Linked DNA regions of Homo sapiens. The protein of the gene in region 1 purifies or fractionates together with the protein of each later gene. This does not show direct contact. Each region holds a gene or a part of one and is shown in the gene's direction. Other genes may lie near its edges.

Region 1 (3,991 bases):
CAGCACAACTCCCAGCTAATTTTAAAAAGTTTTTTTTCCTGTAATCCCAGCACTTTGGGAGGCCGAGGCGGGCAGATCATGAGGTCAGGAGATCGAGACCATCCTGGCTAACAAGGTGAAACCCCGTCTCTGCTAAAAATACAAAAAAAAAATTAGCCGGGCGTGGTGGCGGGCGCCTGTAGTCCCAGCTACTCGGGATGTTGAGGCAGGAGAATGGCATGAACCCCGGAGGCGGAGGTTGCAGTGAGCTGAGACTGCACCACTGCACTCCAGCCTGGGTGACAGAGCGAGACTCTGTGTCAAAAAAAAACAAAAAACAAAAAACTTTTTTTTTTTTTGTAGAGTTGGGGGTCTCACTGTATTGCCCAGGCTGGTCTGGAACTCCCAGACACAAGCCATCCTCTTGCCTTGGCCTCCCAAAGTGCTGGGATGACAGGCGTGAGCCACTGCGCCCAGCCAGGGGCCTGCTTTTCCCACTGAACTTGGCCCAGCAGCACATCATAAGTGTGGATTCAGATCAGAGAGCTGGGTCTCTTGCCCTTTGCCCCAGGTTGAACTGTGCCAGAGGGCCTGGCCTATCTTGGAACACCTGTTCTGGGCTTGTTCCAGCCTCCTGGCACTCCCCAGGGAAATGGCTTTCCCTGGGAGACCTTGTTTCCTTCCTCCCAAGGGGACTCTCTGGCCATCATGGCTGCCTCTAGCCATGTGGTGAACCAAAGGTCTGACTGAACCCTTGCTGTTCCCCTAGCTGGGCCTGCTGGTTGACCTCTCCCCAGATGGCCTGATGATCCCTGAGGACGGGGCTAACGATGAAGAACTGGAGGCTGAGTTCTTGGCTTTGGTCGGGGGCCAGCCCCCAGCCCTGGAGAAGCTCAAAGGCAAAGGTGAGATGGTTAACACACCCTCAGAACATTTTCTGATCTCCTGCAAGTGGTTCGGGCGCAGAACTGGGGGCACTGGGTAGGTAGGGGAAAGAAGACAGAGAAGACCCCTGTTCTCCTGGAGCCAATGATCTGGGTAAGAGAGTCAAGATCGACTCTGAGGCCGGGCACGGTGGCTCACGCCTGTAATCCCAGCACTTTGGGAGGCCGAGGCAGGCAGATCATGAGGTCAGGAGATTGAGACCATCCCGGCTAACACGGTGAAACTCTGTCTCTACTAAAAATACAAAAAAAAAAAAAAAATTAGCCGGGCGTGGTGGCGGGCGCCTGTAGTCCCAGCTACTCAGGAGGCTGAGGCAGAAGAATGGCGTGAACCAGGGAGGCGGAGCTTGCAGTGAGCCGAGATCGCACCACTGCGCTACAGCCTGGGCGACAGAGCAAGACTCCGTCTCAAAAAAAAAAAAAAAAAAAAAAAGATCAAGTCTGGACCGAGACTGAGAGTTGGAATCCGAGCTCTGCCACTTACTGGTTATGTGACTTGATGAGTCACATCATGTGCTTTGGCCTCAGTTTCACCATCTGTAAAACTGGAATAATAACCATGTTATAGGAGTTAATCTGGAGTCCATAAGTATTTCACCCAGGGCCCCCTCACACACAATAAGCTCATGTCAGCCAGGCACATTGGCTCATGCATGTAATCCCAGCACTCTGGGAGGCCAAGGTGGACAGATCACTTGGGGCCAGGAGTTCGAGACCAGCCTGGCCAACATGGTGAAACCCTGTCTTTACTAAAAATACAAAAATTAGCCAAGCTTGGTGGCGAACACCTGTAATCCCAGCTACTTGGGAGGCTGAGGCATGAGAATCGCTTGAATCCAGGAGGCAGCAGTTGCAGTGGGCAGAGATTGCGCCACTGCACTCCAGCCTGGGTGACAGAGCAAGATCCTGTTTCCAAAAAACAAAAAAGAGAGAAGCTTCATTCAGGCATGAACTACTGTGCTGTTGGCTGTGAATTCAAAGTTAATGAATGAACGATATCTATTCAGGAAGGTGTCTTCAAACAGAAACACACATAGAGCAAGGTTGTGTATTGATCAGTTGATTAAAATTTTGTGACCAGAGCTGGGTGTGGTGGTGCATGCCTGTAATCCCAGCTACTCGGGAGGCTGAGGCAGGAAGATCACTTGAGGCCAAGAGTTTGAGGCTGCAGTGAGCTCTGATTGGGCCACTGCACTCCAGCCTGGGTGACAGAGCAAGATCCTGTCTCCAAAAAAGGTTATGACTGGAGATTCACAGGAACCTAAGCTTAAATTTCCCCTAGGAGCAACAGTCTTATAGTCATTAATTTAGTCTTCAAAGCAGCTTTATAGAATGTAACATAACTAATAACAAGATATTGGCAATATGCTATTCTAAGAGCTTCATTGACCTTCTCTGCTCCAACCTACCTATGAAGGAGGAACTGTTGTCATCCCCGTGTCACAGAGGGAGAAACTGAGGCTCAGAGAGGTGACATCACTTGCCGAAGTTCTCACAGAGAGAAAGTTGCAGAGCTGGGGTTTTTTTTGTTGTTGTTGTGTGTGTGTGTTTTTTTTTTTTTTTTTGGAGACAAACCCTTGCTCTGTTGCCCAGGCTGCAGTGCAGTGGCGCAATCTCAGCTCACTGCGACCTCTGCCTCCTGGGCTTAAGTGATTCTCCTGCCTCAGCCTCTTTAGCAGCGGGGATTACACGCCACCATGCCCAGCTAATTTTTTTTTTTTTTTTTTTTTTTTTTTGAGACGGAGTCTCGCTCTGTCGCCCAGGCTGGAGTACAGTGGCGCGATCTTGGCTCACCGCAAGCTCCGCCTCCTAGGTTCACGCCATTCCCCTGCCTCAGGCTCCCGAGTAGCTGGGACCACAGGCGCCCGCCAGCATGCCTGGCTAATTTTTTGTATTTGTAGTAGAGACGGGGTTTCACCGTGTTAGCCAGGATGGTCTCGATCTCCTGACCTTGTGATCCACCCGCCTCGGCCTCCCAAAGTGCTGGGGTTACAGGCGTGAGCCACTGCGCCCAGCCTAATTTTTGTATTTTTAGTAGAGACAGGGTTTCACCATGTTGGCCAGGCTGGTCTTGAACGCCTGACTTCAAGTGATCCTTCTGCCTCGGCCTCCCAAAGTGCTGGGATTATAGGCGTGAGTCACTGTGCCCGGTCTGCAGAGCTGGGTTTTGAATTCAGGTAGCCAGGCCCCAGACCTGAGGCTGAATAAGGAAGAGATGAAATGGGGAAGTCAGCGAGAAGTGGGATCACCTAGCGTGTCCAGGATGGGAAATGGGGGCTCTTGGTGTACGACCCTGGTCCACCTGGGGCATCCCCCTACCGCCAGGTCCCTTGCCGATGGAGGCCATTGAGAAGATGGCCAGCCTGTGCATGAGAGACCCGGATGAGGATGAGGAGGAGGGGACGGATGAGGACGACTTGGAGGCTGATGATGACCTGCTGGTGAGCACTGAGGGCGGGGTGGGGGCTCTGATCCGGTTGCCCCCATCCAGCAGGCCCTTATATCCTGCCCTGGCTGTGTGTCCCTGCAGGCGGAGCTAAATGAGGTCCTTGGAGAGGAGCAGAAGGCTTCAGAGACCCCACCTCCTGTGGCCCAGGTACAGTTTGGATGACTCCACTCCCTTGAACCACAACCCAACGGACAGCCCGGGGTTCAAGACCTAGCCTTTTTTATGAGATGGAGTCTTGCTGTGTCACCCAGGCTGGAGTGCAGTGGTGCCATCTCAGCTCACTACAACCTCTGCCTCCCAGGTTCAAGGGATCCTCCCACCTCAGCCTCCCCAGTAGCTGGGATTACAGGTGTGTGCCACCACGCCTGGCTAATTTTTGTATTTTTTGGTAGAGATGGTGTTTCTCTGTGTTGGCCAGGCTGGTCCTGACCTCAAGTGATCCACCTGCCTTGGCCTCCCAAAGTGTTGGGATTACAGGCGTGAGCCACCGCGCCTGGCCCACCCTTATCCTTCACAGCCATGTGACCCATATCAGGTGGGTGACATGATGCTTCTGAAACCCCATTCCCTCCACTGGGAAATGGGGACCATGATTTCTGCCTCACTGGGGCAGGGGAGG
Region 2 (3,991 bases), on another chromosome or scaffold:
CAGATGTTCATCTGGAACAACATCTTCTTCAGCCTGGGCTTCGACGTCCGAGACCACTACAAGGACTTCGGGGGGGACGTGGCGGCCTACGTGGCGCCCACCAACGACCTGAATGGCGTCCGCACGTACAACGCGGTGGACGTGGAGGGGCTGTACACGCTGGGCACGGTGGTGGTGGATTACCGCGGCTACCGGGTCACGGCCCAGTCCATCATCCCCGGCATCCTGGAGCGGGACCAGGAGCAGAGCGTCATCTACGGCTCCATCGACTTCGGCAAGACCGTGGTGTCACACCCGCGGTACCTGGAGCTGCTGGAGCGCACGAGTCGGCCCCTCAAGATCCTGCGGCACCAGGTGCTCAACGACCGTGACGAGGAGGTGGAGCTCTGCTCCTCGGTCGAGTGCAAGGGCATCATTGGCAACGACGGGCGCCACTACATCCTCGACCTGCTGCGCACCTTCCCCCCGGACCTCAACTTCCTGCCCGTGCCTGGCGAGGAGCTGCCTGAGGAATGCGCCCGCGCCGGCTTCCCCCGCGCCCACCGGCACAAGCTCTGCTGCCTGCGCCAGGAGCTGGTGGACGCCTTCGTGGAGCACAGGTGAGGGGCGGCCCTGCCGGACCAGGGCCGGGGCCAGCTGCAGGGAGTGCGGGCGCCCTGGGTGGATCCGGGGTTGGGTCCTTGAAGGGAGAAGCGCTGGAGAGTGAAGAAGGGCTCCGTCTAGCCACAGTCATTGGAGACCCGTCCCCACCTGCCCTGCTGTCAGGCTCCCGAGCGCAGAAACCCGGGCTGCAGACTCGCGAGCAGCCAGGCGGGTAATGTGGCTGTGGCGGACACTGTTCTCTTAAGGAGCACTTGGAAGTCTGGGTGGCTGTGACTGTCCCCGTGCTGGGGCGGGCAGGTGGGGCACCGGGGGTCCCCGCCGCTGGTGTTTAGTGCTTAGGAAATGGGGAAATGGCCATGTCAGAGGTCCCACAGCATGAGTAACTCTCAAATGCCAGTGGCTTCCTGTCACTGTTGAGAGCCCTGACCTGGATGGGGAGCTCCTCTTTTCCCATACCCTCCAGAACGCAGCTGCCTTTTTTTTTTTTTTTCTGAGACGGAGTTTCACTCTTGTCGCCTAGGCTGGAGTGCAATGGCACGATCCCGGCTCACCGCAACCTCTGCCTCCCGGGTTCAAGTGATTCTCCTGTCTGAGCCTCCCGAATAGCTGGTATTACAGGCGTGCACCACCACGCCCAGCTAATTTTTTGTATTTTTAGTAGAGACGGGGTTTCTCCATGGTGGTCAGGCTGGTCTCGAACTCCCAACCTCAAGTGATCTGCCTGCCTCGTCCTCAAAGTGCTGGGATTACAGGCGTGAGCCACCACGCCCGGCCGCCTTTTTCTTCCTGTCTTGGGAGATCTTGGTTTTTCTGCGTTGACTCATGCACACCGGCCAGGAGGTGCCCTATGCCTGCGGGGTGTGGAGCCCCAGCTGCCGGGAGCCGTGGGCCAGCAGAGCTCCTCTCCCCGATGTCCAGCTCCTGCTCTGCCCTGTTTCCTCTGCTCCAGGTACCTCCTCTTTATGAAGCTGGCCGCCTTGCAGCTGATGCAGCAGAACGCCAGCCAGCTGGAGACCCCCTCCTCCCTGGAAAATGGTGGTCCTTCCTCCTTGGAGTCCAAGTCTGAGGATCCTCCAGGACAGGAGGCGGGAAGTGAGGAGGAGGGTAGCAGCGCCAGCGGCCTGGCCAAGGTGAAGGAGCTGGCAGAGACCATCGCCGCAGACGACGGCACAGGTGGGGCTGCTGCAGATGGCCGGGAGAGAGCCCGGGCTGGCCCTGCCAGGGTGGCTTATGACCCCCACCTGGGAGAGGCTGGCAGACATCTCTGCAAGGAGCTAGGGGGCGAGGCTTGGCGCAGCCCAGCTCCACCGGTGGCAGAGGGGACCCGTGTCTCATGGAGCCATGTCTCCACAGCAGACCCTCGGAGCCGGGAGGTGATCCGCAACGCGTGCAAGGCGGTCGGCTCCATCAGCAGCACCGCCTTCGACATTCGCTTCAATCCTGACATCTTCTCACCAGGCAGGTGGTGGGGGCCGGCCAGCGCAGGAGCCCTCCAGGGCCAGAGCTTCGCTGGGGGGCCTGGGCCCTTGGGGCTGGTGGGTTTGTCCCCCATCTGAGCGCTTCCCCCGCCAGCGCCAGGCGGCATTTGTCTTGCCACTGCCTGGCTCAGCCTCTCTGCTCTCCCTCCTCCAGGGGTTCGTTTCCCTGAGTCCTGCCAGGATGAAGTTCGGGACCAGAAGCAGCTGCTGAAGGACGCGGCTGCCTTCCTGCTCTCCTGCCAGATCCCTGGCTTGGTGAGGGAGGGGCTGCGGGGCTGGGTGGGGCTTGTGTGGAGGGTGCTGGTCCCTCATCTGTCTCCGACTTGGAGGCCCATGAACACAGGCTCGCAGGAGTGACTTTTTCAGCTTTCCCTGAGTGGGCATCCCCGTTTGACAGATGGGGAGCCTGACCCCCAGAGGTCAAGGGCACAGGCCCTGCTGAGCCCACCGTGTGGGCTGGCAGCTGGTAATCCAGTCTTCTGAGCCCTGGATGGTGGCATGGCTGGGGGACGGGGCCAGAGCTCAGTGGGGGCTGCCCATCCTCCTCCTCCTCCCGCAGGCTCTGTGTCTGGTTCCAGGATGCTGGGTGCTCCCCCAACACCGTGGCCTCCAAGCCTCAGGACACGGGGCTGGGGGTCAAGTAGTGCCCCCAAGCGGGCACCTCTGCTTCTCCCACATGGTTAGAGGGGGCCTGTACCACCACCGGGCTCTTGGTTCTTGGCCTGCGCTCCTGCCAGAGGCTGGGCACATTCTGACATCCTGACTGGGAGCTGGAGCCTTCGGGGTCCTTCTCCAGGGCCTCCCAGGATAGCTGTGCTCCCCCAGAAGGACTCAGTTGGGTGGAGGCAGAGGAGCTGGGTGGGGGCCTGAGCTGCTGCAGCCCGCAGGTGAAGGACTGCATGGAGCACGCGGTCCTGCCCGTGGACGGGGCAACGCTGGCAGAGGTGATGCGCCAGCGGGGCATCAACATGCGCTACCTGGGCAAGGTGCTGGAGCTGGTGCTGCGGAGCCCGGCCCGCCACCAGCTGGACCACGTCTTTGTGAGTGCTGCCCGGGGTGGGGCGGAACGGGAGCTGTGGGACTGGGATGGAGGCCGGGGGCCTGACCAAGACCTCCCTTCTGAATCCTTCCAGAAAATCGGCATTGGAGAACTCATCACCCGCTCGGCCAAGCACATCTTCAAGACGTACTTACAGGTGCCACCCGTCCGCTCTGCGGCTGGCCATGGCCTCCCAGGGTGGTGTGGGGCGTCGGGAAAGAGCCTGAGGTGGGGCTGAGGGCCCTCATGACTCGGATCCAACCTGCCTCGCAGGGAGTCGAGCTCTCCGGCCTCTCAGCCGCCATCAGCCACTTCCTGAACTGCTTCCTGAGCTCCTACCCAAACCCCGTGGCCCACCTGCCCGCCGACGAGCTGGTCTCCAAGAAGCGGAATAAGAGGAGGAAAAACCGGCCCCCGGGGGCTGCAGATAACACAGCCTGGGCTGTCATGACCCCCCAGGAGCTCTGGAAGAACATCTGCCAGGAGGCCAAGAACTACTTTGACTTCGACCTCGAGTGGTGCGTGCGGGGCAGGGGCGGTGGGGTGGGTGGGATTGGGCAGATGAGGCGGCCACCACCTGCTCCCAGATGGCGTCTAAGGCCTGTGGTCATAGGCCAGGGAGTCAGAGAGAAGAGGGAGCAGCTGTGGAGATCACTGGGTGCTGGAGGGTGAGGGCAGCCGGGAGGCTCCCGGGGGCCGGGTGGGGCAGTGTTGGGGGCCCGGGCTGGACAGCGTTGGGGAGCTGGGTGGGGCGGTGTTGGGGGGGCCCGGCGGTGCTTGGGCTGCTCAGGCCCCCTGCTCCCTCCTCAGTGAGACCGTGGACCAGGCTGTGGAGACCTACGGCCTGCAGAAGATAACGCTCCTGCGGGAG
Region 3 (3,991 bases), on another chromosome or scaffold:
ACAATTTGGTTTGAATCATTTCACACTTTTTTCTATTTATACCACTTGTACACATACACAATTGATGTTGGTCTTACATTGTTGTTTTTAGAAAATGGGGTGCTCTATGTTTTTTTCTACAAGTTTACAGACATCTTGCTGTTCAGTACATCTGGATATGCTCCAAGGTTTTGAATGGCTCTATGGAATGTATCAGTATGTGTTAATTAATTCTCCTGTTCATGCACACTTAGGTTGTTTTAATTTTTTTCTGTTACCACCAATACCAGCAGTACTGCTGTGAACATCCTTAAATACACGCTCACTTTTGCTAGTATTTTAGAGGTGAGATTCCTAGAATTAAAAACATTTAAATGCATATAAAATTTTGGTATCTCCAAAAAGGTTTCAAACAATGGATAAGAGTGTTTCCTAACCAACTCTTAAGTTTTGTTACATAGATAGCAATTATTTTCTCCAGCCTGTTATTTTTCTTTTTTACATTGTTGGTGTCTTTTTAGCATATAGACTTTTACATTTTTTTTGTAGTTATATTTGTCATTCATTGTTTATGGCTATTCAGCTTTGTCATGTCACACTTAGACTTTCCCTGGGCCAGGCACAGTGGCTCATGCCTATAATCCCAGCACTTTGGAAGGCTGAAGCGGGTGGATCACCTGAGGTCAGGAGTTCGAGACCAGCCTGGCCAACATGGTGAAACCCCCTCTGTACTGAAAATACAAAAATTAGCTGGGCGTGGTGACCCATGCCTACGTAGTCCCAGCTACTTGGGAGGCTGAGGCAGGAGAATCGCTTGAACCAGGGAGGTGGAGGCTGCAGTGAGCCGAGATAGCGCCACTGCACTCCAGCCTGGTTGATCGAGACTCCGTCTCAAAGGAAAAAAAAAAAGGAAAGGCTTTCCCTGGTTGGGGGCAGTGGTTCATGCCTGTAATCCTAGCACCAAGGCAGGAGGATGGCTTGAGCCTGGGAGTTGGAGACAAACCTGAGCAATATAGGGAGACCATGTCTCTACCAAAAAAAAAAAAAAAAAAAGCAGACTTTCACCAAACTATCAAAGTATATTTTCTTCTGTAGAGAGTTCAAGACTTTGATTTGTCAATACCATTGCCATCTTAATGCGTGAAAGAGAAGTATATTTATTAAATCCTTTTTTGTTTTGTTTTGATTCACACTAGATGGCTATGAAAATGCTAGGCGTCTGTGTGATTTGTATTATATTAACTCTCCCGAACTAGAACTTGAAGAACTAAATGGTAAGCCTGATGTTGTCTTTTTCTCAATAATTAGTGCTTTGATTACTTGATAAGGGATAAGAATTTAAATGTTTTAATGGAAGATGACTTTTTATCAACTTCGTTGGATATGAAGGCTAAAGGATAGTAATCATGTAAAAAATATATCTATAAACATATGTAATTTAGTCAGATTCTTTATGAAAAGATTTGGCTTTTTGTATCACATTTTCTTTATTTTTAATTGATAACTTTGATTCTTTGCTTATTTTTTATTTTCTGTTTAGTCATAGAAAGAAAATGATACCAAGAAAGTTACATTTGACTTTTACATGCACTTCACTAATGTAAGACTTACCCTTTTTCTACTTCCTGAGTTGTAAATAATTTTCTGTTGTTGAGGACATAGACTGGGGTTATAAAAGAGGAAAGAAAGATGCTCATCTATTTGAGAATCTGTTTGTCTCTGATGGTTTTCTTTTTACCCTGATTAGTGCCTTTTGGACAAAAAGGGTTTAGATGCCTTGAAGAGGGATTGATGAGTCTCTTTTTCCTGAAAGCATGGTAGTTTGACAGAAAAAAGCATTTCCTAAGATGACACTTTAAGAAGGTGTGGGAAGAATAAAACAAAATAGGCTTTTACTAAGCTGTATTCTGGACCTTAGAGTGAGAGAGCAGTGAAGTTATGCAATTGAAAATAGCATTGCTTGGTGATTTTCTAAAGCCATATTAACTCTTTTGAGCCATGATGGTAGCATAGCATTTGGTAAATAACAATCACAGTGTACAAGTAAGTGATAGTTTGCAAACCTGAACTGCTGTGAGCAATTTCCAGATGTCCCATTTTTGTTCCCAAGGGGGAGTTTATTCAGAGGAAGGTCTGATTTATTGGTTGAATTAGAATTCTAAGATATCATGAGTCTTAATCATTTGTTCTACTAAATGTCTGTTTTATACACACCCCTATCACCACCCCCAGTGGGGCTCCTATTAAGTGTTTAAATGTAGAATTAATTACTGTCTCGAGAAATTGATGCTAGCTCATATTTTTTATTCAGCTTTATATCCATCGAAATGCCTGAAATAAAACAATATTCCACCCAGGTGAAACATTTTGAAAATGGCTTAAAGAATGTATGGGCTGGGCGCAGTGGCTCACATCTATAATCCCAGCACTTTGGGAGGCCGAGGCGGGTGGCTCACAAGGTCAGGAGTTCGAGACAAGCCTGGCCAATATGGTGAAACCCGTCTCTACTAAAAGAAAAATCAGCCAGGCGTGGTGGTTGGCGCCTGTAATCCCAGCTACTCGGGAGGCTGAGGCAGGAGAATTGCTTGAACCTGGGAAGTGGAGGTTGCAGTGAGCCAAGATCGCGCCACTGCACTCCAGTCTGGGCAACAGAGCAAGACTCCGTCTCAAAAAAAAAAAAAAAAAAAAAAAGAAGAAGAAGAATGTATGCATGCATGTGAATTGGACTGTGGAATTTAAAGATTTTAACACTTCTCTATTTGGAAAGTAAAATTCCTACCCGAAAGTTAAGCGATCTTAAAAAAGACTTTACCATCCTAGAGAAAAATGGGCGCATGGGTTGGTTCGATTGTGATGCAAGATTGTGAGAAGTGACCACAGGACTCTTGTCATCATCAGTTGTAAATATTTGTGGGTATGGGTTCAAACACTAATACATTGAAGAAATGGTGTGGCAGTTCTCCCCCAGGTAATACTGTCCTCCGTAGTTAATGTTTTCTTTTCATCACTACACAGTTTATTCTTAAAAATGCTTTAAGCACATCTCTCTGTACTTTCATATTTTTCTCTTCTGCTCTGTAGCAAAATCACCAGGACAGCCAATACAAGTGGTTTATGTACCATCCCATCTCTATCACATGGTGTTTGAACTTTTCAAGGTTTGTAAAATAGTATTACATAACCTTTACCAGTACTTTTCTGAGGTTAGGAATCTGCTCTGAAAGCCAAATATTCCACTAGGTTCTCCTATTAAGAAGTGCCATTTCACATCAGTATCATATCACATTGCTGGAGATCAGCTTTTTATCAACACAGGGAGACATCTCCATGTAGTGGTGAGCTCAGACTATGGAGTCAGAAAGACCTGGGTTTGAATCCCAATTATGGCTCTTAATATGTGTGTGACCTTGGGCAAGTCACTCAACCTCTCTGAGCCTCAGTTTCCTTTTCTGTAAAACAAGAATACTGTCCAGGATTGTTTATGACTATTGGGAATAACATACTAAGTGTCCAGTACAGTGGCAACGTATTACATATAGGTGCTCAATAGAGTTATCTTTATGTTTTTATAAAACAATATTTAGAAGAGTGATTCTCAACTTGCTACCCTCAAAGGACCAGAATTCTTTTTTTGGTCTGGCTTTTCTTGGGAGGGGGAGGTCATTTATATTGACTTACAGGGTTTCTGCTGTAATCTTTGCTCTTTACAACAAAATTTGAAAACAAATTATGCTACTAATATTGAGAGTATCTTTTTTCCCCGCCAATAATACTTGCTGGTTGACAAGAAAATGGGTGAGGAGTGAGGGGCACAGGTCCTGGTGGGTGAAAATGATTGCCCTCTATCAGAAGCTTGTAGTCTCTCTTCAGTTGTGTTTCATCAGCCAGCAGCAAACTAGAGGAAAGAGGGGGTGGCTTTCAATCTGATAATGTAAAGGAAAAGTGCACTGAAACACAGAAAAACTGACCGAATATCTTAGAACAGCAGCAGAATGTTCTTTCTTCCAAGACA
Region 4 (3,991 bases), on another chromosome or scaffold:
TTGAATACCTTTTCAGAATTTAGGCCATATCTACTTAACCATCTATTATTTTCTTACTATAGTTTTAATTCAACTCACATAAAATTTATTTTAAAGGAAGACTTTATGTCACCTTCATAAATAAAAAACACTGTTTTTTCTCATACATACTAAAATAAATAGCTATCAAAATATTTATGCTTCCTGAGAGATCTGTGGTAGTTAGCAAAGGTTTTCTGCAAGATTTTGGATAACATTTTTTTTAAAAGTAAAGTGCTATTTTGGCCAGTTGGTAATTCATTCAACAAATACTTACAGAGCCAGGAACTTTCCAGGCATTTGATGTACATCAGTGAACAGAACATACCCAAACTTTTATGGAGCTTACATTATATTTAGATCATATGTTATAGTATGGAAGCTCCGGCCAGGCATGGTGGCTCACGCCTGTAATCCCAGCAGTTTGGGAGGCCGAGGCAGGTGGATCACGAGGTCAGGAGTTAGAGACCAGCCTGGCCAACATGGTGAAACCCCGTCTCTACTAAAAATACAAAAAATTAGCCGGGTGTGGTGGCACATGCCTGTAGTTCCAACTACTCAGGAGGCTGAGGCAGGAGAATCGTTTGAACCGGGAGGCAGAGGTTGCAGTGAGCTGAGATCGCACCACTGCACACTCCAGCATGGGTGAAAGAGCGAGACTCCATCTCAAAAAAAAATAATTAAAAGCTTCATGAGCTCTTCTAAACAGCCTTTCCCACTTCCTACCCCATTTCTATTAATACAACTAGGCCAATTCTCAGTATTTGCAAACATCAAAGATTTTGCCTTTTCAGAGAAGGTTTGGAAATCCTTACTCTTAAGTATCAGAATTAACGTCACATGCGTTGTGTTCTGGGAAATTCTCATAGGTGAACTCAGTTCATGGATTCAGATGTCTTTTAAGCATTATGCTATGCAAGAAGCAAAACAACAGTTTGTTGAATATGATAAAAACAGTGATGATACTGTGACTTGGGATGAATATAACATTCAGATGTATGATCGTGTGATTGACTTTGATGAGAACACTGCTCTGGATGATGCAGAAGAGGAGTCCTTTAGGAAGGTGAGTTCATGTGCACAAGCTGTTTCTTTTGATCATGTCAGTTCACTTTACCTTCCTGCATGAATGAGCACATTGAGGGCCTGAGGTCATAAGCTGGATTGTCTTGTTCTCTAGGAAATCACCTGTTCCACTTCAGCAGTCATTTTGATGGTTTCCTTTCTGGCCAGATTTAGGACTCTTATTCTAAATTACCTACATGATCCTTCTATCTGTTTTTCTCGGCTGCATCATTTAATTGTCCTCATTTCCAGAGTTGCTTTTTAAATGTGTTTTGAATGAGTATCTCAATATTTTAATATCATTGAATAATCAGTTTTATCTTTATTAAGAAGGCCATTATGGCCCATTCCCATTTTTAAACACATAGTTTTATATACTCACTTAAAAAAACTGCGGTTTCCACATCTGTGGATTCAAACAACTGAGAATCGTAAGTATCCAAAAAAGTAAGTATTAAAAAAAAAAAAACTGTGTCTCTATTCAACATATACAGAACTTTTTTCTCTTGATTATTCCTTAATATAGTATAACAATGATTTATTTCTCATTTAAGTTGTAATTTATATTATAAGTAATCTAGAGATGATTTAAAGCAGAGGTCCCCAACCTTTTTGGCACCAGGGACCAGTTTCATGGAAGACAATTTTTCCACGGGACAGTGTGTGGCGGGGGGGTGGGGAATGGTTTTAGGATGAAATTGTTCCACCTCAGATCAGCAGGCATTAGGTTCTCCTAAGGAGTGCGCAACGAAGATCCCTCACATGTACAGTTCACAGTAGGGTTTGCACTCCTATGAAAATCTAATGCCACCCCTGATCTGATAGGAGGCAGAGCAGAGCTCAGACGGTAATGCCTGCCACTCACCTCTTGCTATGTGGCCCAGTTCCTAACAGGCCATGAACCAATACCCGTCCGCGACCTAGGGATTGAGGGTCCGTGATTTAAAGTATTCAGGAAGATGTGTGTAGGCTATGTGCAAATACTGCACCATTTTATATCAGGGACTTAAGCATTCTCAGATTTTGATAGGGAGGTCTTGGAACCAATTTCCCAGGAATGTGTGAGGGAGGACTGTGTAACAAATTGACCATTGTAACCATTTTAAAGTGTACAGTTGAGTAATATTAAGTACATTCATGGTGTTGTGCAACCAATCTCCCCGACTCTTTTCATCTTACAGAGTGGAGACTCTCTACCCATTAAACAATAACTCCCCATTCCCTCCTCCCACTAGCTCCTGGCAACCACTGTTCTACTTTCTGTCTCTGAATTTGGCTACTCTAGGTACCTCATCTAAGTAGAATCATACGCCGTATTTGTCTTTGTAACTGGCTTATTTTTACTTAGAATCCTCAAGATTCTTCCATTTTGTAGCATGCATCAGAATTTCCTTCCTTTTTAAGGCAAAGTAATATTCTGTTGTATGTACAGGTTGAGTATCCCTAATTCCAAAATCAAAATGCTCTTAAATATGAAACTTTTGGAGCACTGACACGACACTCAAAAGAAATGCTCATTGAAGCATCTTGGATTTGGGATTTGCAAATCTCTGTGGGATCCTGCTTTCCATTGGTTTGGGTATATACCTGGAAGTGATACTGCTAGATCATACGGTAATTCTATTTTTAATTTTTTGAGAAACCACAGTACCATTTTTCATAGTGAGTACACCCTTTAAAATTACTCCTTTTTTTTTTTTATTTTTATTTTTTGAGACAGTATCTCACTCTGTTGCCCAGGCTGAAGTGCAGTGGTATAATCTCGGCTCACTGCCTCCTGGGCTCAAGCAGTCCTCCCAGCACAGCCCCCGAAGTAGCTGGGATTTCAGGCTCAAGCCACCACGCCCATCTAATTTTTGTATTTTTTGTAGAGATGGGGTTTTACCATCTTGCCCAGGCTAGTCTCAAACTCCTGAGGTCAAGTGATCTACCCACCTCAGCCTCCCAAAGTGCTAGGATTACAGGTGTAAGCCACGACACCTGGCCCCAAATTACTCATTTTTTGAAAATTTAGTATCTGTGTGAGTTCTAATGTGTCTCATGGTTTAATTTGTTGAAATATATGCTTCTTAAGCAGAGCTGAGAAAGACTAATTTTATTTAGGAATTAGGAACTTTTTAACACTTCTAGGAAGTCTATTAAACTAAAAGTATATCAACAGAAATGACTGTGAGCTTGAGAAATTGATATATCAAATACTTTTGTATTTCAAAGCTAATTTTAAAGAATTAAAATCTTTTTTATAGGTACATGATAGTTGTATTATACATACTTACAGAGTACATGTGATATTTTGATATCACACAAACGTATATTATAATGATCAAATCAGGGTAATTAGAGGATCACCAAGAATTTTTTTAAGATAGTTTTTATGTGTAGAAAAACATAAAAATAAAATCAAACATGCTGTTGCAAACTGTCCCAAAATATTAGTCAAGGGTGCTTGGAAAATATTCAAGGCTCTTCTGTTTCTTAACTTATCCTGTTTTGGTATATACCTTTTAATTTTTGTTGTGGCCATAATTTATTGTATTAAACAATATAGTGTAACAATGATTTACTCCTCATTTAAATTGTAATTTGTCTTATAAGTAATCTAGAAATGATTTAAAATATTTGGGAAGATATGTGTAGGTTATATGCAAATGCTATGCCACTTTATATCAGGGAATTGAGTATCCTTGGGTTTTGGTATCTGTGGGAGGTTCTGGAACCAATTTCTCACAAATATGGAGGGAGGAGTGCATAACAAATTTACTATTGTAACCATTTTAAAGTGTACCATTCAGTAGTGTTAAGTACATTCACAGTGTTGTGCAGCTAATCCCCAGAACTCTTTTCATCTTGGAAAGCTGAAACTCTGTACCTGTTAAACAACACCCCATTCCCTCCTTGGTAAATGCTT
Region 5 (3,991 bases), on another chromosome or scaffold:
AAAAGGGTATAGTGTTTGCACGTAACCTGCGTACATTCTCCTTCATGCTCTAAATCATTTCTAGATTACTTATAAGACTAAATACAATGTGAATGCTATGGAAATAGTTGTTCTATATTTTTTGAAATTTTTATTATTTTTTATTGTTGTTTTTCCCAAATACTTTCAGTTTGTGTTTGGTTGAGTCAGTGGACGTGGCGCCCGTGGCTGTGGGGGCGGCTGTGCTTGTCGTTTTGACTGAGTACGTTTGTTTATTCAGCGCCTCCTGTTTGCCAGGCCCTGCCTCGGCTCTGCAGGTGCAGTGAATAGAACACACGTCTTCCCCACAGGAAAGGCTCTTCCACATTTGAGCCCCAGCACCTCATGAAGCTGGCGCAGCAGGGTGAAGCTGGGGTTGGAGGGACTCAAGTGGTCTCGGAGCCAGTGGGTGATGCCACAGAGACCCCAAAGCCCTCGGCCCCTGCCCTGCACTTTCCCCGGTTGGAGGGACTCACGCAGTCTGGGAGCCAGTGGGGTGATGCCACAGAGACCCCAAAGCCCTCGGCCCCTGCCCTGCACTTTCCCCTGAGCTGTGGGCCGGCTGTGACCAGGAAGTCTCCAGGGTGGTGGACATTCATGTGTCAAGTGAAACAGTCTCGGCACACTTGGGCATGCTCTTCTGTGTCTGTCGTGGTTTGTCACTCACATTCCTGGTTCCCCCATAGTACTGAGATGATGAGGAACGTGGAGCTGGCCCCGGAAGTGGATGTCGGCACCCTGGAGCCATTGCTTTCTCCACACGTGGTCTCTGAGCTGCTTGACACGTACATGTCCACGCTCACTGTGAGTAGGGCTGGCCTGCGTGCCACAGACCACCGTGCTGGTTATATGAGTAACTAGGGCTTGGCAGCAGGCAGGAGGCAGGGGGGAAATGCCTTAGCGTTGACTTCCTAGGATGCATTGCTCAGTTGCCCGGGCTCTGCTTCCAGGCCTTGACAGGTCAGTTTGCTAGAAGAGGAGAATGGCCCCTTCTCTGGGCCTGGATCTGAAGCTTGTCCTCTGCTGGAGACGTGAGCCTGTGCCCTACTCGGCAGGCTGGCCAGGGCCCAGAACGTCTGAACCGTGTGTGGCAGCACCTGCCAGGCTCTCGGCTCTGAGTCCCATGGTTGGGGGGGTCCGTCAAGGACCAAAGGGCGAGTCCATTTGCAGCCTGGTGACCACCAGGTGGTCTCAGAGTGAGAAGAGGAGGTCAGCAGGGTCTGCTTCTTAGACAAGGGTGCGTCCACCTAGCAAGGCAGCATTATGACCAGAAGCCGAGGTGTCCTCAGGAGCTGGGGAAGGAGCGCTGTCTTCTCTTGGGACGTGAGCTGCTGTGGTTGCTGAGTCTGGGCATGGGAACAGGCCTGACCGGACCTGGTCGGCCTCATTCTCTGTGCACCTGGGATTCAGCGGCCTTGTCCTCCAGCATGAGGTGCAGCCAAAAGGGCATCTAGTTTCTTCTCCCTCTTTATCTGTACCAAGGGTTCCAGTTAAACCCCTGCGGGCTGCTGTGGTCACTGCCTCCCATGGGGGTGGCTCCTGGGTCCCTGCTCTGGAGTCCTCATTTGAGAAAGAGGACGCTGGTGCCCTGTGTCTGGTTTGTGGAGCTTGTGCATGCAACTGACCAGGTAATTGGCATGACCCTCAGGCACCTGCTCTTCTCTCTTCTCTTCTCCATGATGCTGAACTTTCTTTAGTCAAACATCATCGCCTGGCTGCGGAAAGCGCTGGAGACAGACAAGAAAGACTGGGTCAAAGAGACAGAGCCAGAAGCCGACCAGGACGGGTACTACCAGACCACACTCCCTGCCATTGTCTTCCAGGTACCACCTGCAGGGGACTGGCACAGTTCCGTTTCCTAGGTGGATAGTGGGACCTGTAGGTTTTACAAAGTGACACAGATACCTGGGATCTTCATCCACAGAGTGTAGTAAAAATATTGAGAGCCCTGCCTGGTGCATCTAAGTCCTCTCCTCTCTCTGTCTCTTACTCTCTGGAGCTGCAGAAACCTGGGATGATACTTACCAAATAGTTTTGCCCAAGGTCACTTTACTTTTCTGACCTGGTCTTTATGGGTTTGGACTACAGCCTAATTGTATGTTATTTATGTGCGACTTTCAAATGTGAGTTTGTTTGGTCGATATCCAGGATTTGTCCTAAAAAATGGCACATGATTGAGTTTAAACAGGTGGATTTTGGGAGCGTCCATTATTTTTTTTGAGACGGAGTCTCACTCTGTTGCCCAGGCTGGAGTGCGGTAGCACAATCTTGGCTTACTGCAATCTCTACCTCCTGGGTCAAGGCGTCCATTAGCTTTTAAAGTTGCTTTCCTGTTCATTGGTTAAGGTTCTAAGTATTAGACCGACCTGCATTTTTACCACGGATTCACTTTCCAACGCCCAAGCCTCACTAGGTGTTAGAACCGGTGTGTTCTTACCACGGATTCACTTTCCAGTGTCCGACCGCCCTGTGTCCCGTTTTTCCTGCTCTTTTTTTCTTTTGGCACATCATGTGTTTTAATTTGAGTGGCATTGCTGAGGGATGGAGCCCCGTTGTGTTAGAATCCTCACTCAGGACTCTAGTTAGGCAGGAGTGAGGGCTGGCGGGTGACATTTCTCTCTGAATGATACCGTTAGTTATTGACAGGCTAGTCCAAACCCTTTCCTTTGTTTGGAAACAGATGCCGTGAGAAACTGTGAGGAGAGCTCTGTCCCCTTGCCCTTCCTCTGCCTGGGTCAGCTCCTGGCAGGGCCTGGCACACCCCAGGTCCAGATTCTTAGGAACTCTGCATCATGACAGTCATGGGGCCAGGGAGGGTGAGTCAGGTGCCTGAGGGGCGCCATCCCGGGTGGGGCCTCACTCCACACATTAAAACTCCAGTCACGTAGTGTGAGGACAGACATGGCCCCCGTGGGAGAAACCAGTTTGCCAGGAATTAAGAAATGAGTCACTTGGTACTTTCCCAGGTGAGAAAGTTGTTTTTTTTTTTTTTAAACTAACTTTGTTATTTTTCACGTGGTTTCATTTTTTTTTTCTCTGAATTTGGACTATCCTAAATGCCAGTTAGCAGATGGAGGTTTCATATAACAGCAAACCTGCACTCTTAGTATACTCCTGTAAGATTATACCAGAATTCATAAGTTCTCTGATTTTTAGATGTTTGAACAGAATCTTCAAGTTGCTGCTCAGATAAGTGAAGATTTGAAAACAAAGGTACTAGTTTTATGTCTTCAGCAGATGAATTCTTTCCTAAGCAGGTATGTCTTTCTGCCAGTGTGCTAATGTACACATTGAATGTTTTTAAAAATTAGAAGCAAAAATTTTTTGATCCTACTATGCCTGTTACTAAGAAGAAATTAAGCCGGTAGATTCCCCACGTGTCACTCCTGTGTTCTTCAAAAGCAAAGGGAGGGAGCGGAGCTTCTGGATCATCTTCCCCTTGAGTGGACCACACACCCCCTTGGGCTCCCAGAGCTGATGTGTTGTGACGTCCTTAGCGATGCGCCGGATGACACCAACTCTGTTGGAGTCAGGCTCCTCCTGTTGCCTGTTCTGAACTTCCTTGGGGTGGGGGTGGCGACTCCTGCCGCAGTGCCTACTTCGTAGTGGGGAGGGCGTCCTCGGCTGAGCCGGCCCTCCTCAGAAGGGCTCCAGGCAGCCATGACCTGGCACGCCACCCTCCCCATGAGTTGTTGATAATTTTCAAACCTATACAGATGTGGAAAAGAGTTTAAAAAACTGTGTTCACCCATCGTGCAGTCCAGAAGCCATCCCCTCCAAAGCCCCCTTGCCTAATCTGTTCTCCCCTGCCCATTCCACTCTCTCTGCTGAAGTACCTTCAGGCAAACCCCGGGCGCTGTGGCATGGTATTTGCGACCCTCTCTGAAGCCACTGCAGTGCCATCAAGTCAGAGACACATGCACGGTGACTCCGTGGGGTCATCCGATGCCAAGTCTGCGTTTGGGTTGTATCT
Region 6 (3,991 bases), on another chromosome or scaffold:
GCAGGCTTTGAGAAAGATTAATAACCTTGGTGTGTAAGGAGGTTGCACAATTTGATCATAGTAGGAGCCAGGCCACGGAGCCAAAGCCTGTCCTATAATTCTGCTCTCACACACTCTGCAAGGCCTTAGTCTTCTAACTTAGCTCCTCTAACTTTTGCTTTTTGTTTGTTTTTCATTTGGAAATGTACATGAAAATAGTACCAATCTTACAAGGTTGTTATGGAGATTAATTGAAAATGCAAGGAAAGTATATAGTGTGGTGCCTGGCATATGGAAAGCCCTTGATAAATGCTCGTTGTTTAGCATTATTATTGTAAAATGGGGATAATAATACCTTCCTTACAAAATTGTCATGAGAGTAAAAGGAGGTATTTTGTATGAAAATCTCTAGATCAGTCTCCTGCACATAGTAGGCCCACAATACTTGTTTTTACAAATTAGCCAGTGATTCTGAAGGCTTTTTATTGTTTTGAAAGTTGTGACAAAGGAGTCTAATGAGCCATTATTTTTAAAGCCTTTCTTTAGGGGAGGGTCACTCTTTTGGAGTCTGTGCATAGCTTGGGAGATGGTGTGGACATGAGCAGACACCTTCCTGGCATCCAGATTAGGGAGCAGATCCCTGCTTCTCAGAACGTTAGTGATGCTGCACTTGGACTGGCCTCAGTATTCTGTGAGAGGGCTTACAGTGTGTGTTGTTGTTTGTTTTTAACTTTTAAAAATAGAAATTTACAAATATTCACAGTTGAAGAAATAACCACCAACTTCAACAATAATCAATATTTTGCTGATCTTATTTTATCTCTCTTCCCTATTCCAGACACCAGACACACACAGACACACACACACAAAAACACACACTTTTTTCTTCTAGAAGAGTATAAAGTATATCCCAGACATCATGTCATTTTACTGTTAAACACTTTAGTATGCATCTTTAATGATAAGCAGTTTTTAAACATAACCACCATTGCATTCTTAGCTGATTTCTTGATGAGATCAAGCAGAATGTAGCAGTAATCAGTGGTGAAATGCCTGTGCCCAAAATGAGCATTTTAATGCAAAATATTAAATTTAGTTCAATTCAGCCAGTATGTTAGTATTTTTTATGTACAAGGCACTGCATGCACAGCACGTACAGAGAATCAAGGTGGCAGTCCCTGGCCCTGGGAAGAGTCCTGTGGAAAGCCCATAAGACATACATACGAATAACCAAAGTTCAAGGCAGGATTCACATAAAACCCTTAGAGAGCAGGGAGCTTGGCAGGTGGTGGGATTTGTTGAATACGAAATAGGAGTGTGACATGTGAGTTCAAAGGAGGCATTCTCCGTTGAGTAGGAGAGGATACACAGAAGAGGTATGTGCATGACAGGCCTTGAAGAAGGGCACAATCTCTGCAAACCATTTTTAAAATTGTAAAACAATGTTAAAGGACAATCTCTGTCCATGCACCAAAACAAAAACGAAATCAGAACCTGCTCCTACTCCTACCATTCTGACATGGTGGAATCATATCTTCTCCAGGAGTGTAAGTCTAAAGTTGAGCTACAAGGCTGGTGGATAGCTCAAATGAACCTGCCCCTCGTAAGTTCACAAGCCAAGAATCCACTTATTTTTGTTTGCCTTTGCATTAAAACTGAGGCCTCCTTTTCTGAGGCCTAAGGTTAGTTTTAAGAGAAAATGAAGAGACCAACTGTTGAGGTCAATGAAGAGATTTTTCTTTCCTTCCAAGCTGGAATTCCTATAGCTAGATGCACACATTGTGCAAGTCCCCCGTACTCTCATTCCGCTGTGTTTGGGTATGTAGGATTCAAACAGATTGATTTCAGGGTGGAGAATGGAGTAGAATGAAAGAATCTCTTCAGTCATTATTTAAACTACTTATCGAGCAGGTGGCCCAGGTGCTGAGGCAGACAGAGCAGCAGGAAGGAAGGCGGAGCATAGGAGTAGCTAGGGAATGGTGAGAGGTGCCATCTGAGTGGAGTTGAGAAGGCAGTGGGTGCTGCGGCTGGGTGCACGCAGTGGAGGGCCTCGAATGCCAGGCTGGGGAGCATTTTCTTAACTCAGTAGGTGAGGGAAGAAGCCATGGGAGGTTTATGGAGCAGATGCCCAAGCAGTCATGTCAGTCATGTCAAGTGGCAATGGGAGGTTGTTATTATAGTCTTGGCTAGAGGGAGTGAGGGCCAGGGTGAAGGTGTTCTTCATGAGGTTTTCACTTCTATTTGCAAATATTCATAAAGTGTCTACTCTGCATCAGGCCTGAGAACAAAGAAATGGAAGAGACACTGAGGAGGTAGAATGTGCGAGACTTAGGAACCCTCAGAGTGGAGAGGTGGAAGGGAAGGGAGAGCGTTGAAGATGGCACACCTTTGACACTGAGTGACCTTGAGAATGAGTGGCGGGAATGTGGTAGCAGGAGTGGTTGAAAAGTTTGGAGGTGGGGCTGGCTGTGTTTGGAACAAGGTTTTAACTCTCTCTCTCTCTCTCTCTCTTTCTCTCTCTCTCTCGCTGGCTCGCTGTGTGTGTGTGTGTGTGTGTGTGTTTGTGTTTGTGTGTTTGCAGAGGCAGATGTGGAGTGAGGTGAATTCGGTTGTGAGCGTGCTGTAGTAAAGACGCCATGGATGCTCAGTTAGAATGCCCAGACCTCAGCTCAGGCCAGTGTTTGGGTCTGGAGGCTAAGGAAGAGCTGGGTTTTCATGTCTGGGGGAGTGAGCTTTGGGGTGTGAGCAGGCCAGGGAGTGGGAGGAGAGAGAGAGCTGCCCAGGTGATTGGCACAGGAGCTAGTTTTGACCACCTTTTCTGTGTGTTCTGTGATCTGACCACTAATAGGTCAGTCAAGTCACTCCAACATGTTTTTTTAATTGACAGATTAAAATTATATATGTTTATGGTGTACCACATGGTGTTTTGAAATATGTATACATTGTTGAATGGCTAAATCAAGCTAATTAACATATCCATTACCTCACATACCTATAATTTTTTGTGCTGAGAATGTCGAAGATCTGTTCTCTTAGCAGTTTCCAAGTATACAATACATGGTTATTAACTATAGTCACAATGTTGTACAATAGATTTCTGGAACTTATTCCTCCAGTCTAACTGAAATTTTGCGTCCTTTGCCTAGCATTCTCCCCTCTCCATCCCCCAGCCTCTGGTAATCACCACTTTACTCTCTGTTTCTATGAGCTCAGCTTTTTGACCTCCCACATGCGAGTGACATTATGTGGTATTTGTCTTTCTGTGCCTGGCTTATTTCACTTAACACTGTCCTCCAGGTTCATCTGTGTTGTCGCAAATGGCAGGATTTTGTTCTTTTTTTTTTATGGCTGAATAGTAGTCTATTGTGTATATATACCATATTTTTTTAATCCATTCATCTGTTGATGGACACGGGTTGATTCCATATCTTGGCCCTTGTGAATAATGCTGCAATGAACATCTACCATCTTTCATCATAATTTTGACAGCCTTTGAAAAGGTGCCACTCTGAAAGAATCTGCACGGGGGTGGAAGTAAACCATTAAGGATCAAAGGGTCTGTCACCTGTGAGGAGACAGAAGAGGAGTCCCCACAGGCAACTTCATGGTGTTTTGGATCACACTGGTCAGTCAGGCTGAGGCGAGGGCCTGCAGGGAGCTGTCTTCTGGGTCACATTCCCTGTGGCAGTAACTTAGTGTCATGGCAGCACTGCACTCAGCGTTCCTAAAAATCATGTGTCAGTCAGTGGAACTTAGAAAATATGAAGTTTAGAAGACAGTAGGTTTGGTTCATCTGTGAGCTAAGGATGCACTTGAAAGGTGGTAGAAGACAGGGCTCCGTTCCCATCTGCCACTTTTGAACTGTGTGGCCAAGTCACTAACTTCTTTAAAGCTCTCCCCTCAGAAATGGGAACTGTGAATAATGATCACAAATATATACACGTGTATGTGTATATGAATATGTGTGTACCTGCATACACACACACACCAGGCACCAGTCTAGGCATTTTAA
Region 7 (3,991 bases), on another chromosome or scaffold:
CATTTTTCCAATTGTATCTGTTGAATTTGTTTTAAGAACAGATTTAGGTATGATATAGGTATATACATTTGGGAAACACTGAATCAAACAAAGTTACAAGTAGGTTTCTTAGCTGGGCATAGTGGCATGGGCCTGTAGTCCTAGCTACTGGGGAAGCTAAGGCAAGAGGATTGCTTAAGCACAGGAGTTCAAGTTCAGCCTGGTGAACATAGCGAGATCCCATTTCTTTAAAAACTTTCTTTTTTTTAACTGCAGGCCTTCTCAGAGTTATTAATATGCCGTTGTGCCTTGTGAATTTCCAGGAGGAGATTATGATATGTTGTGTTTCCCAAATTTATTTTACCTTGGAATTGTTTAAGGAACACCTAGTTTTTTCCCAGAACTTTAGTGTTCTGAGAGACACAGTTTATTATTCAAGAATTTTCCATATAATGTAAACCTTCTGTAATACTAATTTTGGTTCATAGATTATTAAAGAGAAAAAACAAAGTATGAAAGGAAACTATTAATTATTAACTATTATTTTCCCCAAAATCACTAAAGCCTTTTAAATGTTAATAAAGAACACATCTCATTCTCTTTAATGACAAGTGTCATTTATTGAGAGTATTTTCTCACAGTTTTGCAAGTTTTTCAGCAATGACCCTAAATTTTATTTCTTGGAAACCACACCCAAATCCTGGGTGCTCAATTGAAATAAAACAATACCCTAGTCAATATAACATGCTTGTTAGCATCTTTATTATTTAATATAGTGGGTCAGGAAAACATTCTTGTTATCTAGGTGTGATTTTTAAATTGGGGAGAATAAAGAATTACCATCTAATCTAAGTATTTTTTCTTTCTCTCCATATTTAGTTCTTAAACACTTCCAGTAACCATGAAAACTCAGACTTGGAAATGCCTTCTTTAACTTCCACCCCCCTCATTGGTCACAAATTGACTGTTACAACACCATTTCATAGAGACCAGACTGTGAAAACTCAAAAGGAAAATACTGTGTAAGTCTTTGGTTCAGGAATAAAATGATTTATCTTATTTACTTATATTTAATTAATGGAATATAGTTCCCAGATGTCTGATCCACTTGTATGTGCATAATTTTACTGACCATTTATATATAATCATGTCTATTCCCACATTGAATATATCTGTCCTGGGCATATTACAACTACCTACAGGTAGAAGATGGGAAGATAAACTAGATTCCTTTTGTAACTTACTCCAAAATTTCCTATATATGCACAAGTAGTTTTCATAAAACTTTTCCATTCGGTTTGTTTGTTCCCTCCATAAGGCCTTCTTATGAAAGCCAGATTTTCAACCTCCTTTCCTCTCTAATTGTAAGCTTCAGAATAAGAACGAGTATGGTTTCTTACCTAGTTTGTATTTTTATTTAATTTTATTTGTTTATTATTTATTTATTTTTAGTTTGTATTTTTTAATCTTATTTTTTCTTTTTGAATTTATGTGTAGATAGGACCTCTTCTGACATCCCCAGGAATATTATATGATTAGAAGCCAAGGGATGAGTAAGCAGTCATTTTTATTCAATAAAGCCTTAATCAATTCAGAGAAATGGTAGAGAAAGTGTGAATTATCAGAAACCTTGAAAAGAAATGCACTGTTATTTCGAAGTACAAAAAGTAAATTTTAAAAGTTTAACATGTTTTGTAGTATGGGCTCTGTTTTCATGAATAGGGAAACCTGATTTGTAAATGACATCAGGTCTTCTTGATGCTCATAGTCTTATACAGATCATAGGCACTACATGTGTCTTCAGAGCCATTAAGGAAAGATGTTAAATCATTTAATGCTTTTAGTCTTCGAGGTATAATATTTTGAAATATTTGAAAATATGTGATATGCATATTCTCTTTTTCTTAACGAATAACGTGATTAATCAGCACACCCCAATTCCATATCCGGAACAGAGTTTATTGTATTCAGTGGAAAAATGTTAAATGTAACAGGTAAAGCCATGTAGGGACATTTATTCTTTTGTATTGAGCCACTGCTTGTTTTCTTTTTAAAGTTTTAGAACCCCAGCTATCAAAAGGTCAATCTTAGAAAGCTCTCCAAGAACTCCTACACCATTCAAACATGCACTTGCAGCTCAAGAAATTAAATACGGTCCCCTGAAGATGCTAGTAAGTTCTAGAAAAGTTTTTGGATTTCATTGGTTTATTAGTCCCATTAGGAGTTCTCTCTGATGCAAAAATACCCACTCTTCCGTTTAGCCTCAGACACCCTCTCATCTAGTAGAAGATCTGCAGGATGTGATCAAACAGGAATCTGATGAATCTGGAATTGTTGCTGAGTTTCAAGAAAATGGACCACCCTTACTGAAGAAAATCAAACAAGAGGTAAACACGCAACCCTTTGGAAGCAACAAGCTGAGAATCCTGCCCCCTTTATTCCTTGTGTGCAGCTTGATGTGTCTGCCATTGGCACTGTGCAACACCACGACTTTTCGTGCAAGATTTTCATACAAGGTGCAGCGAAAAGGTACTGCCAGACTGTAGGCATCATCAACCTTTCCTTTGGGAAGCCAAGCCATCTCTATCTACTTCATGTTTGGACAGAAAACATACTAGAGAGTATCAAGAAAAGGGAGGGAAAGAGGTTTTTAATGTACTTTTAAACATTACTGATTATATAAAGTTGATATTTCATTTTTAGATGTGAAGAATTGGAATTTAAATTAAAATAATAGTATCTTTAATTAATTGTATTAAAAAAAGGGAGGCTGGGCGCGGTGGCTCATACCTGTAATCCCAGCACTTTGGGAGGCTGAGGTGGGCAGATCACAAGGTCAGGAGTTCGAGATCATCCTGGCTAACATGGTGAAACCCCGTATCCACTAAAAATACAAAAAAATTAGCTGGGTTTGGTGGCGGGCGCCTGTAGTCCCAGCTACTCAGGAGTCTGAAGCAGGATTATGGTGTGAACCCGGGAGGCAGATCTTGCAGTGAGCCAAGATCGTACCACTGCACTCCAGCCTGGGAGACAGCAAGACTCCGTCTCAAAAAAAATAAAAATTAAAATTAAAAAAGAGAATCTAACCTGCAAGGATCAAAGTTTTAGCTTGTTGGCAACAGCTGTTTTCCACCAGGTTAGATACAGTGCTTCTTGAATTTATTTTCATGTAAAGATAAGTATTTTTTTTTATAGCTAAAAATCTGATTTGATTATTTAGTAATGGAGAATTTTACCAGAATGTGATTAAAAACCAGTCTTTTGTCACCAAAAGATCTTTTATGTCACCAAAATAAAATCCTTGACGGATACAACACTACTAGGTGTATCATTAAAATATATTCTTAATAGAATAAACACCTAGAATCAGAACATTGGTTGAAAACGTAGGAGCTTTACAGGGGCAGTAAATTTGGAGCTAGTCACATTTCAAATTTGCCATCAGTGTTTCTTTGTTGAATCCAGAAGATAGAGCAAATTGAGCTGATAGTGTAAGTTAGCAACATAGTTTTATAAAAGTATTTGAGGGACTGGCCAGAAATATACTCCTGACTGTACATGTTTCATAGGAAGTTCTAGAAACAACAAAGCACTTTCTATATGCTTTTAGGTGGAATCTCCAACTGATAAATCAGGAAACTTCTTCTGCTCACACCACTGGGAAGGGGACAGTCTGAATACCCAACTGTTCACGCAGACCTCGCCTGTGGCAGATGCACCGGTAAGTACGTGTGCACCAGCCCCCAAGTTGTTATGTGACACTGGTGCCTCATGAAATCCTGTGTGTGGCATAGGGCTGCTGCGGTTTCAGCACTCCCTCTTTAACACATCTTATTTCTAAATGTTCTCCTGCACATGATTTTTAAAAAATGATTATTAATGTAGAGTATAAAGTTGAGATTTTTTCATGTATTAGAAACATTGCAGACTTTTTCATTATTTGTTTTCTCATTATTTGAGTGCCTTGGCCATTTAAAAAAATCTACATGGATATAAAAACTATGTTCATTTA

What was found.
Region 2: the proteins of CC2D1A (region 1) and CLUH purify together in Homo sapiens (affinity purification with mass spectrometry, with the first as the bait; one large-scale study listed by BioGRID). This does not show direct contact.
Region 3: the proteins of CC2D1A (region 1) and PDK1 purify together in Homo sapiens (affinity purification with mass spectrometry, with the first as the bait; one large-scale study listed by BioGRID). This does not show direct contact.
Region 4: the proteins of CC2D1A (region 1) and RCN2 purify together in Homo sapiens (affinity purification with mass spectrometry, with the first as the bait; one large-scale study listed by BioGRID). This does not show direct contact.
Region 5: the proteins of CC2D1A (region 1) and EXOC3 purify together in Homo sapiens (affinity purification with mass spectrometry, with the first as the bait; one large-scale study listed by BioGRID). This does not show direct contact.
Region 6: the proteins of CC2D1A (region 1) and PTGFRN purify together in Homo sapiens (affinity purification with mass spectrometry, with the first as the bait; one large-scale study listed by BioGRID). This does not show direct contact.
Region 7: the proteins of CC2D1A (region 1) and MYB purify together in Homo sapiens (co-immunoprecipitation; one large-scale study listed by IntAct). This does not show direct contact.

What each region holds. Positions count from the first base shown.
Region 1 is NC_000019.10:13,909,075-13,913,065, forward strand, and holds part of CC2D1A (coiled-coil and C2 domain-containing protein 1A), read left to right. Parts: intron 1-748; coding exon 749-884; intron 885-3,248; coding exon 3,249-3,364; intron 3,365-3,453; coding exon 3,454-3,519; intron 3,520-3,991. UniProt on the Homo sapiens protein: Transcription factor that binds specifically to the DRE (dual repressor element) and represses HTR1A gene transcription in neuronal cells. The combination of calcium and ATP specifically inactivates the binding with FRE.
Region 2 is NC_000017.11:2,694,504-2,698,494, reverse strand, and holds part of CLUH (clustered mitochondria protein homolog), read left to right. Parts: coding exon 1-599; intron 600-1,552; coding exon 1,553-1,776; intron 1,777-1,956; coding exon 1,957-2,061; intron 2,062-2,235; coding exon 2,236-2,336; intron 2,337-2,968; coding exon 2,969-3,121; intron 3,122-3,214; coding exon 3,215-3,277; intron 3,278-3,393; coding exon 3,394-3,638; intron 3,639-3,930; coding exon 3,931-3,991. UniProt on the Homo sapiens protein: mRNA-binding protein involved in proper cytoplasmic distribution of mitochondria.
Region 3 is NC_000002.12:172,565,681-172,569,671, forward strand, and holds part of PDK1 ([Pyruvate dehydrogenase (acetyl-transferring)] kinase isozyme 1, mitochondrial isoform 2 precursor), read left to right. Parts: intron 1-1,175; coding exon 1,176-1,253; intron 1,254-1,519; coding exon of another isoform or gene 1,520-1,536; exon of another isoform or gene 1,537-2,342; intron 2,343-3,060; coding exon 3,061-3,137; intron 3,138-3,991. UniProt on the Homo sapiens protein: Kinase that plays a key role in regulation of glucose and fatty acid metabolism and homeostasis via phosphorylation of the pyruvate dehydrogenase subunits PDHA1 and PDHA2.
Region 4 is NC_000015.10:76,934,639-76,938,629, forward strand, and holds part of RCN2 (reticulocalbin-2 isoform a precursor), read left to right. Parts: intron 1-887; coding exon 888-1,084; intron 1,085-3,991.
Region 5 is NC_000005.10:456,185-460,175, forward strand, and holds part of EXOC3 (exocyst complex component 3), read left to right. Parts: intron 1-704; coding exon 705-822; intron 823-1,715; coding exon 1,716-1,841; intron 1,842-3,174; coding exon 3,175-3,275; intron 3,276-3,991. UniProt on the Homo sapiens protein: Component of the exocyst complex involved in the docking of exocytic vesicles with fusion sites on the plasma membrane.
Region 6 is NC_000001.11:116,954,637-116,958,627, forward strand, and holds part of PTGFRN (prostaglandin F2 receptor negative regulator precursor), read left to right. Parts: intron 1-3,991. UniProt on the Homo sapiens protein: Inhibits the binding of prostaglandin F2-alpha (PGF2-alpha) to its specific FP receptor, by decreasing the receptor number rather than the affinity constant. Functional coupling with the prostaglandin F2-alpha receptor seems to occur.
Region 7 is NC_000006.12:135,198,050-135,202,040, forward strand, and holds part of MYB (transcriptional activator Myb), read left to right. Parts: intron 1-858; coding exon 859-1,001; intron 1,002-1,476; exon of another isoform or gene 1,477-1,532; intron 1,533-2,035; coding exon 2,036-2,150; intron 2,151-2,240; coding exon 2,241-2,366; exon of another isoform or gene 2,367-2,508; intron 2,509-3,589; coding exon 3,590-3,700; intron 3,701-3,991. UniProt on the Homo sapiens protein: Transcriptional activator; DNA-binding protein that specifically recognize the sequence 5'-YAAC[GT]G-3'. Plays an important role in the control of proliferation and differentiation of hematopoietic progenitor cells.